2 linked regions of the Homo sapiens genome follow. The protein of the gene in region 2 interacts with the protein of the main gene of each other region in a biochemical or structural test. Each region holds a gene or a part of one and is shown on either strand. Other genes may lie near its edges.

Region 1 (5,115 bases), on a different chromosome or scaffold from region 2:
GGACCTCCTCCAACTTCTAAAAAGCTTTCTCTTGAATTTGGCCAATGGGCATCCCTGCTGAGCCCACCTTTAGTCCAGATGTTACCTTTCTGGATGTTCATTCATGCATATAGCTGCAAACGTTTTCCAACAGCTTGATATTGCTAGGCACTGTGCTGGGTCCTGAATCAATGGGTGATAAGGGTAATCCCACTTTCAGCAGAGACACTGACAGCCCCTACTTGACATGGTCCTGGGTTCTCTCATTCCCCTTGTCTCTCCCCACTGAACCTGCACTAACTGTCCTATGTCCCTCTTTAAGTGTAGGCCCAGAATTGATGTTGCAGTCTAATGTATAACAAATAAGTCCTCGTTTGTGACCTGTTTCAGAAAATGCAACCTAAGATTGGGCAGTCATGTCACCTTCCCGTTTAATTTTCTGTCCATATGAGGCAAAATAGCTTAAGATTAAGAAAAAGCTTTTGGAATTAACTAGCCCTGGAACAAGCATTTGTTGCACCTCTTACGCTGCAGAGCTGGGCAAATTGTTCAATCTGTCAAGACATTTTTTTAAGTGTACCGTAGGGGCAGTTGGAAGGAGTAATGAGGCAGTGTGTATACAGCACCTGACCTAGTCATGGCTCATTAAAAGCTGCTATTCTACATCTCATTGCTGTCATCTCCAAAACGCTGAAGTCTTTTCACATGTGCTGCTGCTCCATCAAACTCCCAGATGTTTTGGGGAGGACTGGATGGAGGTCCTAACACCTTCAAGATCTAACCCGTCACCTCAGCCTGTTCTTTGGCATCCTGGATGTGTCACATAACCTATTGTCATCTCAGCCCCATGGCATTTGGAGCTGAGATCAGGATAGCTTCTGTATCCTCATCTGAGTAAAGTATGACCAAGTAAGTTCAAGGGCCGCAGCCTGGGGTTTAATCCTGCGACCTCCCTTCTAGACGAGCATCCATTTTTTAATTAGTACTGTTTGGCTGTGCTTATTCAATGAGTCATGAGTCATAAACTTGTAACATCTCCAGATTGTTTTATGAAGTCATATCAGGATGAAATTCTGCCTACCTACTATTTCTGTATTATCTTCTTTAGGAAACATGCCATGTGGCTACAGAACATGAAAAAACCATTTTTTTTTTCCATAAAGTTTCTACATATAACATGCTTCCTGCAGAAGTTTGTAATTCACATATTCTAGCACTAATTATAATCAGGTAATATTATGACTTTCTCCAACAGAATAATAGTTTAACATTTTTTTGTGAGAAGATAATGATGTTTTACTCAGTAAAATGAGTTTAAAATTACAAGTTAGAAAAGTTTATCTAGTTGTTTCTATATAGCATTAATCTGGGCTGCTTTGTCAAAAATTTATTTTATTTTTGAATCAGGGTGTCACTCTGTCACCCAGGCTAGTGGCGTGATCACAGCTCACTGCAGCCTTGAACTCCTGGGACTGCAGTTGTGCACCACCATGCCCGGCTTTTTGTATTTATTTATTTTTTTGTAGAGACTGGGTACTCTCATGTTGCCCAGGCTGGTCCCGGGCTCAAGCGATCCACCCGCCTCTGTCCTTCAAAGTGTTGGGATTACAGGTGTGAGTCAACAAGATTTCTTTAAACCAAGGTTAAAAGATAAAAAGAAGGCACAGAATTTGGTGTATTTTTGAGTAGTCCAAAGTAATTTTTATTCTCTAATTAGTCACCTCACGACTTTATTTGAATGAATTAATGAGAAGCTAAATAAACTAGCTTTTTAAAAAATATTTTCTTCTCTTTCTCCAGGCAATGGGTCACTTTGGGGCGCTGCAGAACATCTGTGCTTTCCCTGTGCCCCATCACCTTCCCAGCTCCTGAGCTGTAGCCATCTCTGCTGCACCTGCTGTCAGAGGGCAGCTCCTCCGGCTCCTGCTCCTGGGTTGCAGGTGCCACATCTGTGCAGAAGGCTTAGGAGAAGCAGTGAGCCTTCTAACTGCAGCAGTCCTGACAAAGCACTTTGTGAACCCCTCCGGGACATAAGGGCATCAAACTAGGAACAAAAACACAGTCTTGACTGTGATTTGGTGATTTTACCACATACAAGGCCCGAAAGCCAATTGAAGACAAGAAAAGAAGACAAATCTCTTGCCAGCAGGAGTAAGATTGTACAGGAGTCTGAGTATACATCAGGGCAAGCCAAGAGACAGGGACAAACAGAGAGAAAAGGTTCATGCAATTATGAATATGACCTGGAGGGGGCTTTGGAATTAGATTACAACAGTAACAGAGAGTTAATGCCATTTTGAAACAATTTAAGAATTATGTATTTGAAGGAACTCAGTATTATCATGTTATCCAAAATTATCCCAGTTGCTCATAAGACTTGCTAATAACCTGGACTGGGGGTGGAGGGTTGAGGGATCTAATGGAAAACATCTGTTAAAATTGAATATGATAATCATGTCTTGTTTTTATGATCTTGCTCATGAGACAGTCTTGAAGAGAGAACTGAGTGATTATCCAAGTAAATGTGTATTTCTATGAAGAATGTAGGTGTGTCTTGACTTTGCATTCCAAAATAAAAATGACTGATCTTTTCCATTAGCACAGTTTGGGTCAGCCTAACTGCCAGCTTTCATGATTGTATTTATTTATTTTCCCTAAGGAGATACGGGCACTTTGTGGGCCTTCCCAGGCTGCTGCAAAATGATGGATGGTTGGGCTCCGTCTAATCCAAATGACACGGGGTGTCAGGAGCATTGGTAATCGTGTCCTGCCGACTTCAAAGCCCACTGCCAAAACATCCACAGCACAGAGGTTTGGCAACTTCACATAATCATAGCAAAAGGACTGCAACGTGAAAAAAACAGGCCCTGAAACAGCTATGAAAAGGGCCAGTTCAGAAACCTATTCAGCTAAGATGTTTCGGCTAGCGCCTTCGCACGGTCACCTTGTATTTTCACCTTTTGAGTTGCCTTCACCTGGACCAAGGTTGGCAGCATTTGTGATTCAAAGAAAAGATGCCCAGGGAAACTGACTCTAGATTATGGAAATAAACATTGTCTTCAAGGGATAGCCAGCAACATCAGGCTCAGGGCTAGTGAATCCCAAGCCACAGTGCCCAGGTAACTCTGATGTAGCAGGACTAAAGCTGTCTACCTAGTGAGAGCTCCTGAAAGAGAAACCCCGCAGCAAATCTAGACGTTATCCCTTGTTTCTGTAAAGTGAGAAATTGCAGCTATCCATGACGCTTTATTTGCCAGTAATAATACAGTTTGCCTTACGAGTGGTAGCTTGTTCACTGTTCAACAAATGTATTTTAATCATAGCAGGAATTAAGGGTGATTTGTGACCAGGTGCTGAACTAGAATTTCTCAATGACAACCCCAGCTTCATAGGCCTCTTTCCATTCCAGGCATAAATATGGAGGCTCCAATGTGAAACCCGGGGTCCTTCTGTTCCAAAAGGGGCTAGAAATAAAAGACAGGAGGGGAGGCAAGAAGGACCTGGAGAGGCTGACGCCATTTGGGTGCCAAACATCCTATTTCCTTGGCTCTCCCTTGCACAAGTTCCTGGACAAAGTAAATTATAACACAAAATCCACAACATTCAGCACATGTTTTCATTAAGCAACTTTAGTCACTAAAAAAAGTGCAAATGCAGACTCCTGTATAAATCTGATTTGCCATGCTAGGCCAAGCTTATTTTATTACATACATTCTGCATTCTAAGAACTAATAACTTCATATTGTAAACATTAAGCATACAGAGTTAAAATTCAAGGCCACATTATATCGATTGTCTCTTTTGTCGTGTGTCTTTGGCTGGCCGAGATCAACTCGTAGTGTATAAATGCATAAGTTATATAATTATTATATAAAAAGGGGGAAAAACATTGACTTGTATACTTCATTCTGACAAACGCACAGCGTTCGCGACTCAAAGGAAAACTGGAGGCCGCCTACCCAAAATGCCTGCGTGATTTCTGATTGTGGCAGCCAAGAAGGCCATCTCTTACCTGACCCTGTGGAGAACAAAGCCCCCACATAATGATGAGGTCCTGAATGTTTCTCTTAAATATCAGACAATTCCAGTTAAAATTTTCATTTGACAAACAAAGAAAGAGATGCGCATTTTTGTTTCTGAATTCTACTACTTCCCCTTTCTCCATTACGCTGTGTCCTTTCTCCTAACACTGGGTTTGGTATAACACTGACTGCATGAACCCTCGAGTCTCCATAACTCATTGTACACAGTCCCCAAATGTCCTGAGTCCAGTCTTCATTGCTTGAGAAGTTTCTTTCCCAGCCCTGGTCTCCTCCTTCTCTGCCTCTTCCTCCTCCTTCTTCACCCCTCTGTCTACAATCACACGCTCACTCTATACACATCCTCAGTCCCACCTTTTAGTTCATAGTCCCGGTAATACTGTAAAGGAGTTGGAAACTTTGGGTCATCTTCACAGTTTGAGAAAGCTGACAGCTGTCCATCAAACGGAATGTATTTGATTTCAACCAAAACAGCACATGCCATGCAGTTGCATATCAACGTCTGTTGATGGGCCACAGTCTCTCTCGTGTCTTTTCTCTTGTTTTTGATATGTTTCTATTTTTAAATACAGGTAGTTTTCCTTAAAATGGCATTATAAACGGTATGTTAGGTCAAAACTGTGTTGTTTCTATTGCTTTAGTTTCATCCCAGTTTGCATTAGTGGGATTCCAAACTCTACTCTAAAGTTTATACATTTCTTAAGACCACTTTCTTTGGCACTTTGTCCTTAAGACTTCATGCTTCTACATACACTGTCTTTTACAAGGTCAGTCCACAGATGATATGTCCATATTCGTGACATTTTTAGCATCCTCCTCATTTCTGTAGTAAGACTTCAGTAACTCCCTCCCAAGAGTCTTTGGATCTCTTCCCCGGCTTCCTTCCCCAGCCCCAGTAAAGCTTTTTTCATTCCTCTTGAGGCACTTTTGATTCATGTTCTCCGATAGAGTTTGTGGCGATGGGCTGGTGAATGCACGCTGATGGGAAAAGCCTCCGCCAGGTCTTTAGTAGTAAGTGCCCAGATGAGAAGGCATATGGCTGGTGGGGAGCCTAGTGTTGGGGTATATACCCCCAGTTGGTGAATTCCAGTATGGG
Region 2 (9,312 bases):
TGAAGAAAGCTACACTGTTTGGTTTAAAACCACCAGATTAATGAGGAATCCAGGCTTCATTTTAAATGAACTGGCTTTCTAAAACCAATATATTAATTCTGCCTTGTTCACTTAAAGGACTGCAGAATTTGATCCATGGAAGCTTTTTTAGGTCAACTTTTTAAAAACAGTGAAGATGCTCACAATTCATATTTTAATTGCTCCTGAATAAGGGGACATGCAAGGCAGCCATCAGCAACCAGTGACCCCTACTCAATCTCCAAGCCTCTGGAATTCACCACACCTCACAGACAGCCGGAGATGAGCCTCACCCTTACAGAAGAGCACCAAATCTATGCTGCTTTTTCTTTTCAACTATGAGAAAGAGCCTTCCTTGGCTTCTGTGTTTTCTTTGACCATAGTACTATATCAATTCAATGACCAGTTTTTTATTACTGGTGGTGCCTAAGAAGCTGGAGCTACAAGCTTGTTTATAGGAAAGAAAAACTACTCACTATGTTTCTTTTATGTAGGAGTGGAAAATGGACTGATGCAGCCATCTTTATACAACCAAGATACTCCTTTTGAATATTTTGTAATTTTACTAGTCAAATCAGATCCCTTTTTGAACAACCTGTATGTAAGTATAAAAACAATTCATTAACAAACAGGCTGAGGGTACTCCTATAAGTGAACTGTGATCATTTGGGTCTGATCCTCTCCTGAATCTCTTCTATTAATAACACCACAAGAGTAGGCATCAGAGTTTCTAGAACTTGGTTTTGACCATTTATCCTGTGATAATCTTTCAACTACTTAAAAAAAAATCTTTGTTTTCTGTGTGCTTTTATTTAAATTGCTGACATTGTTTGCTCAAAGATGTGAAGACATCCACTTTTAAAATGAGTACTTAGTGTTTTGGTGACTGTAATGCACATAGCAAACCTCTAGAACAAAATAATTTTTAGTTTTTCCTGAGTAGGTCGCATCCATCTGTGCATTCAGGGAAGTATTCTAAGCATTAAGAATTACTGATGGGTATTACAAGCCTATAGGAACTTATTAATTGACGGGGCTCATGAATTTTGAGAAAGAAATGCTGAATTCACTGTACAAAGTATTGTCCATTTTTCTTATAGGGTTCCTTCCTAGTCTTTCAGAAACCATAAAAAAAAAAGAGCATCTTTCCAATGGCTGAGAAAGAATGAGTGGTGCATGCCTCTGATTGTCTCTGATTCACATGGAAATTTCAAGATCATGGGGATTTTCTTGCTCTAAGAAAGAAAAAAAAAAGGTTTGAATTGAAGATATCTGTATAATTGGTGAGGTGCATGCTAATTCCACCAATTCGATAGCTTTATCCATTCTACTTCACCAATTTGTACATTCCAGCTCCAGTACTAAGAAGCTGACAGTTGGGTGAAACCACCTCAAAATTAATTTCTTCTATACTTCTAAGTATTTTACATGAAAAAACAAAGGAATGATGCGGCTTATTGGTACGTGTTAGGAAGGTTCACTGGCTAAATCTCTGACATTTAAATGTTATGGCCACACTAAAAAGCACAGTATTTGATGTACCAATGATAAGCAAAATAATCAAAAGGTTTTAAAAAAAAAGCTTGCAGATAGTGAAAGTACAGGTAGCTTACATGTGCCTAATACTAAGTTTTGAAATGTCCTCATCTGTTCCCAACCTTATGCGACTGTTTTTAACAATGACATAACCTACAATGATGTAAACATGCAATTACCTTACAGAGGCACTGATTCCATCTGCTTTGTGAAGGGGCTTGATTTCTATAGGAATGCTCCAATAAGTACCAATTACCTAATCTCTCTTTGGGTGATACGAAAACTTTGTATTCTGCGTTATGTTACTCAGTGCAATTTCAATGTATACCTTGAACAAGCAGGCATGACTTATTATTTTTGTTATAGCTGTTAACTTAAACAAGTGAGCTTCTCCCTTTTCAAATATGATTCACTGACTGGAATTTGAGAAGAGAGAGCCTGTGATAGCAGGGCCACATCCATGCCTGCTAGCTCCACTTAAATGAGAAATCTCCATCTGGTCAGGTAGCTGGAAAAATTGCCGTGTTTTCCACCTTGGATCAGATATCCAATGGTGCCTCTGATGGACATTTCTCATTTCCTATGGAAATACTTACTGGTTGCTGTAGGTGAAGCTGCCTCACCTTCAGTGGATGTAGTGATGGGTTTAGTATCTGTCATGCTCAGGGTCACAGGTCGCACTGCACTGGGATGGGGAGAGGGTGCCAAGACAGGAGTGAAATGGCCAGGCACTTTCCCTACTACTTGACCACTGCCGTTAGGCTACAAAACAAAAACAGAATGCCGGGTGAAGCAATCCAAAAGGCAGTCATCTTGTTCAACAAGTCCACTCAGCACACACGACTGTGTGGATCCAGCACACTGCGCATAGGCGCCACACAGGCCCTCTCGAGTCGGAGTCGGAGAGGCCAGTCAATGGTTGGTAGTAATAAGGAGCAGCAGCATTTCAAAGAAGGTTTTCATCTTCAAAGCACGTCATGGTATAGGTGAATTCCTCTTTACAGCACCCCTGAGAGCCAGGTAGACTTGATCCTTTCATGTAGTAGGCCAAGAAACTCAAGTGCAGACTTAAATGCTTAGCCCAAAGGCTAAAATGGAATTCCTTACTGAACTAGCTACAGTTGGAACCCAATGCTTCCTTATTCTCTGCTCTTCATTTTCTATAATGAGTCAGTTTTGGCTTTTAGAACACAATTTTCACCTACATGATGATATCACTGAAACAAAGGACACAAAAATATCTAGGAGATCAAATACAACGAATTCTGGAATTTTCATCATTTACAGTCAAGAACCATTCTCCTGCATACAAAACTCTAGCTCTCTTACACACAGGTGTGCTGAGATGCACACATTAGGCAATTTAGATTCCGAGATCTATGGTCAACTTTTGATGATTTACTAATACAAGAAGATAGAATAAGATGTAAAGCATCTAAAATTTCAGAGGTCATACAATGATATAAAATGCTGAGCTACGTTTGTCCTTACACCTACAAATAAAAGATTTCCAAAGTAAATTAAACTGTACTGAGGGGAAGCAGAGGACAAGCAAATGAGCATTGTTATTTGAGTTACTCTTACATCCATGGTGGTGCATGGAGAGTTACACAAAACATTTCTTGTTGACATTTGTGAGAATTAACTGAGAAAATCCCCTGGGCAATGATAGAAAAGATGTTACTATCTGAGTTTTAGCTCCTGGGTACAAAAATAGTTTCCGTGGTAGGAAACAAAATCCTAAGGATACACTCTTTGAAGAAATAGTGGAATATATTTTTCTAGACTGAGAATGTTATTTTTGATTATACCCATGTTGGAATTCTCCACTGCACGGTGTTCATCGCAATTTGCTGGGAGGCTATTCTCGGCAAGTATATAGTCTTTATAATCTGAACTGTTAAAGGCAAAAAAAAAATGAAGCAGAATATTTTTCTAAATATCTGCACATAAATTACAAGTAGACATTTATTTAGAGAAAAAGATGAACAGCTAATAACACTTAAATATTGTGACTTAGAGACATGAACTAAGTCTTCGGTTAGGCTCCTCAGAGGCCACATTATTTATTCTATAAAGAAAATGGACTTCCTGAATATCCTGATTATTCATCATGGGTAATTTTAAGTATTTAACTTGATGTCAGGAAAATTGACCAGAGTTTTCCAATATGGAAACCTATGGGAGAGTTACATCTTTAAACTAATTTTATTCAAAATATTCCATTGAATAGCATGACTGTCTCACTATAATTGGTGCAGCAGTAATGCAATTAATCTCAAAATTGCTGTGGGGAGGAAAAGGCATCTCAGTTGCTTATCTTAAAAATCAAAATCAGTGCAGTGCTGGAGAATATTGGGAAGCAACAGCTGACTAGAAGTGAATGGTGAAGGAATACTGATGTTTTTCCATTTCTAAAGCTAAAATGGTAAATACCAAGAATTCTAATTTGAAATGCAAATTAATTGGTTTTGAGTTGGAGTTAAAAATCAAAGCAGATACACTGTTCCTTAAAAAAAAAATCTGCAGTTAACTATAAAGACCCATTTTTCCTTTCAAAGGGAAAAAGTAGTTTGTTTCTACAGCAGGCCATCCATTTCTGGTTATCTGAACACTGGAAATAAGTGCTTTAAATATCTTAAGAAAGAAGACAGGTCTCATTTTATCATTGGTGGTACATTCAATGGTAAAAATGTTTCTACATACAGTGTTCACCAAAACAGTCTGAAAGTACCTACCTGGAACAAAATGTCTGGAGCAGAATGACAATAATTTCAAGGAAATGCTGCCACCAAATATATTATCCTACCCTGACCATTCTACAAACTTCACCTACTGGAATTGAACAACATGAACTAGTAGACACTTCTCTCATTTGAAAAGAATAAAGGTGACAAAGAAAGAATTCCCAAGTCAATGCAGACAACTTTCCTAAAACTCAGGGTGAGAAGAATTGAGGGCTATTTTCTCCTCAGTTTTCTACTGGTTCAAACAGATGAAGCTACACTAAAAATTTCTATCTTTTAAGGCTGTTAATAGATGAACTTTCATACTGTAGATAGAAAAGAGAGATGTCTTGTCTGAAGGTGAAGCTAACAGCATTAGGAAAGGATTATTCTACTTTATACACGGTTCCTATTATACAAAATCCTGAGAGTTTTTTTGTTGCTAGTTTTTCTTTTTCTTTTTTTTTTTTTTTTGAGATGAGAGTAATATGCTTCCTTAGAAGGTGATATGTATCTTGAAAAAGTGAAGAAAAACTGAGAACAATATAGGCAGATTATCACCTAATATGCCCTCTTAACTTATAAAGAAATTGAAATATACGTAAAACAAGCACTGAATAATTAAAGAAATGTGTAACACTAAGGGCCTGATTTTAATTTGCATAATTTTTCCCCTAACAGTGCCTAATTAAGACATCAGTTAAAAAAAAAATCCAATGGAACTCTAAGATTTTCCACACTGAATTAACGTTAAGGACTTTTAATGGATGTCTTAATTAGACTTTGTTATTCATGGAAATTCTACACAAATTAAAATCAGACCTTGTGTGCACTGTTCCCAGCTGAGTCTAGCAAAATGCTCTATGGAACTGAGACTTCTGAATCCATGAGCTGACAACAAATTTTATTTCTAAACGATATACTAAGATCCCACTCTCACTTAGCTGTCTTTAGTACTTCAGTCATGAAAAGTGCTACAACATTTTAACATTTTCTTCTAAAATACAAATAATAATTTTAACTTCAAATTCAAAATTCAATATTGAGTTTAATATCTCAGTCAGTCAAACTAAAAGTAATGATAACTTTTTAAGTAACCCAAAGGGTCCTGGATGCGTTGTTATTCTAAATTAAAAGTTCAGAAAGGACCATTTTGTTTCATTTTAACAAATTAAGACCAAAGGGATTTTTTTCTCACCTTTCTTTGCTAATTTAAATTGATAGACACACACTATTTACTAGCATTTCAGGAATGTTCCACCGTAGTAATGACGGAATGTTTGTGAAAATTCTCCAAAATATTAAAAGGTATAATAAGTGGACAGGAGTCTTAGAGGTAAAGCAGCAAAGCTAAATATCAGATCCTAATATCAAAATTACATTACATGTTTTAGATATTACAATTATTGATAGCCCCAGGTCTGGCACAAAGACTGTCTACTTGATTGTGGAAAATGCTCATATACCAAATTCCTATGAAGTAACCTCTTGGTAGAAGAAACCATATGTCTAGGGGAGTGAGAAATGCTCATGAGTCACTACACTTACAAAATGAATCCCCAAAACCACTGCACAATGTTTCCAAAAAAAAGAAAGACGCTTCTAGTAATGTCACTCATTATTAAATGTAAGTCATGTCTCTGCAAAGAATATTCAAGTAGTCATCAAACACTGAGAATGTTTACATTACCAAAGCTTATTTTAATACCTAATAGTTGGTCTATAAATACAACTGTAAGTTCTTTTGTGTGTGTTTATTTTAGCACATACCTTACTCCTGCCTGAAATAAGCACATTGTCTCTGTGTCAAACCAGGTATTTAAGAGGTGTGAACTCCAGCCCAGAGCTTTCCTGTCAATGTACTTTCTGCATAAACTTTCCCTTCAGTCAGTGAAAATCCAAAAACATTAAACCATCTTCACAAATGTACCCTTTGGGGCAACACACTTCCTACCTGTCATTCAGCCACCTTTAAATAAAAACTTATTGAGTCACCAAGCAACTTCCTGAAGATGGATTTCAAGGCTTGACGTTCTGCCAGACACACTGTCTGACTAACCTTTGTGTCTCAGAATTAGATCTGTCCCATCTCCCTTAGGTGCTAATCTTATTTTCTCTCTTATTTTTACCTGGCTGGTTTGTGGACTGGATGGGTCATAAGAAGGTACATAGTTCTTCAGAGTATCCTGAGGATTCAGGTGGGGAGGATATCTGATTGTTGGATGAGAAAAGTAGCTCGATGGGGCTGGAGGAAGGATAGCTTGTGTTGGAAATGGCAACGGTGAAGGTGGAGGTGGAGTTCGAGTTGAGATGACTGCAGAAGACAGAAAAGGAAAGATTGACTCATCAGCTGGTTACCTTATTGCTCCATTCTGATCCTGAAGAATGCTGTGAAACTACAAAACTGGTAACCATTCATTTTTGTCCCCATGATTTAACCAAGCTCTCCTAAATCAACAGTTACTTTTTCATTTTTATTCTCAACACCAGTACGGCTAACTACACAGAGATAAAACATCACTCTAGAAAATTAACAATCTTGCTTCCTGGCTCTGTGAGTGGTTACAAAATCAGTTTCTCTTTTATAGGTTATGTCAATACTTGATAAAACACTTCTTTGAGCAAAGATATATCCCGTTGAAAACATATTCTTTGATTATAAAATCTTTAGGCCGGGTGCAGTAGCTCACACCTGTAATCCCAGCACTTTGGGCGGCTGGGGCAGGTGGATCACCTGAGGTCAGGAGTTCGAGACCAGCCTGGCTAACATGGTGAAACCCCATCGCTACTGAAAATACAAAAAATTAGCTGAGCATGGTGATGGGCACCTGTAATCCCAGCTACTTGGGAGCTTAAGGCAGGAGAATCACTTGAATCCAGTAGACGGAGGTTGCAGTGAGCCGAGATGGCGCCATTGCGCTCCAACCTGGTGACAGAACCCCATCTCAAACAAACAAACAAACAAAAAACATTTTGTCTCATAAGCCCCATCTCAAACAAACAAACAAACAAAAAACACTTTGTCTCATAAGTCCAGAGCAAGTCACAGCATTAAGTAGAGGGCAAAAGAGCCAAAAATTTTCTACCAAAATTAAAAACAAAAGTGAAATTCAATTTCAAATAAAACGTTTCCCTGTACATCCTACCTGGCAATTGTTTAGAAGGAAAGACAATAACTAATACAACATCATCTCATGTCATTTATAATTGTCTGGTCATGGTATAAATGCTTATGAACATTGGAACATAGAGCTAGAAACTCTCCTAATGAAAATGTTTCTTTCAAAACCAAAAGAGCTCTATTCTGCAACTATTTTTCTTTCTACTTTAACTTTTACTATATGTAGTTTAAAAGATATTGTTAATATAAAACCAAGAATAAAACACACAGCAATGAAAATTTAAGCTTTCATATAGGTAAGTATATTACTTTACCCATATATCACATATTTTATAATAATTTTATAAAGGGAAATACTATATAAAACACATGCAATGTGGACAATGTTCAATTTTACTATAACTTCTCAACATTAGTATTCTTATAATTTATTGTTCAGTTTTTGAAATATAAATCTTAAGTTTGAAAGATGGAGAAAGAGTGTAATCGTATGATCATTATCTCTAAAATGTTGAGAGAAATAATCATAGAAATACAAATTAAAACTACCAACAAATATATGTAGAAGTGAAAAGTAAATGTCTTTCTATTTTAATATTTCCCAATTCAAATAATAGGAAATTATAAACGATAAATGTCTAATGTTTTATGAGACAACTTAAAGAATATGAAAAAAAATAAATTTTAGCCATAACCTACAAAGGGAAATCACCTAGAATGATTTATTTCCAACTTTGAAACTATGTGGGTGGGGGGGTGGGACCTATTTATGGGATGTATTGCTTACCTCTCCCAAAAAAAACTTTTTCAGAAGATATAAGAAATTAAGAATGTATAGAATAGAAAAAACATAAATTCAATTTTATAGTCACGACTTTGTTCTCTGAACGTCCAGAGCACTGTTTCTGAAATTCTCTGTATTGTTCTTACAATGCAGATCCCTTGGTCTACACACAGACCTAGGGGATCAGGACCTCTAGGGGTAAGGCACCAAAATGTATATTTTAAATAAGTGTCCATGTAATCTTCCTACATACTGAAGTTTGAGCATCCTCCATCAAATGTATGCATTTCAGAGAACAAATGCGTATTTCTTAAAACAAAACTCTTTACTGAAGTATTACTTTATTTAAGAAGTATACCCATTTGAAAGTATCATTTAAGGAAATACAAACATCTAAGAAAAACTGGGCATCTTTTACTTAGTGTCTAAATGCTCTTAATCTCAGCTCATTTTAACCATGATTTTTGCTCACATCTGTACACAAACCCTGGAAAGATATATACATAGTTCCATCTTGGGTCCTTTAGCTTTTGAGATTAATTTGGCCTTAATAGTTCTGGAGGAGATCTATTTTCAAGTGAAATTGCAGAAATCAAACCCGAACTCACATCTATGGGCAACCTGGCACTGTGCTTGCATGAGCTGTAGGTGGCCTGATACCACTGGGTAAAATGTCGTATTTCAAACTGAGAGTAAAAATGACTACCTTTTCCATAAAAGCCATTCTAGTCCTTTAAAAATAAGAAAAGCAGGCCAGGCATGGTGGCTCACGGCTGTAATCCCAGCACTGTGGGAGGTCAGGGTGGGTGGAGTGGATCACTTGAGGTCAGATGTTCGAGATCAGCCTGGCCAACATGGTGAAACCCCATCTCTACTAAAAAAAATACAAAAATTAGCTGAGCGGGGTGGTGAGTGCCTGTAATCCCAGTTACTCGGGAGGCTGAGGCAGGAGAATTGCTTGAACCTGGGAGGCAGAGGTTGCAGCGAGCCAAGATCACGCCACTACACTCCAGCCTGGAGTAAGACCCTGTCTCAAAAAAAAAAAGAAAAGAAAAAGAAAAAAAAATAAGAAAAGTAAAATACAAGACAAAAAGTTTTCCTTTATTATGAAAGAATACATACACATG

The links. Proteins that work in one complex are often made in the same cells at the same time.
Region 1: the proteins of NFIB (region 2) and ERG form a complex in vitro, tested with the Homo sapiens proteins (one study listed by BioGRID).

Annotation. Positions count from the first base shown.
Region 1 is NC_000021.9:38,378,379-38,383,493, forward strand, and holds the end of ERG (transcriptional regulator ERG), read right to left. Parts: coding exon 5,025-5,115; 3' UTR 1,658-5,024; downstream 1-1,657. UniProt on the Homo sapiens protein: Transcriptional regulator. May participate in transcriptional regulation through the recruitment of SETDB1 histone methyltransferase and subsequent modification of local chromatin structure.
Region 2 is NC_000009.12:14,114,031-14,123,342, forward strand, and holds part of NFIB (nuclear factor 1 B-type), read right to left. Parts: intron 6,595-9,312; coding exon 6,410-6,594; intron 2,317-6,409; coding exon 2,178-2,316; coding exon of another isoform or gene 2,151-2,177; intron 1-2,150.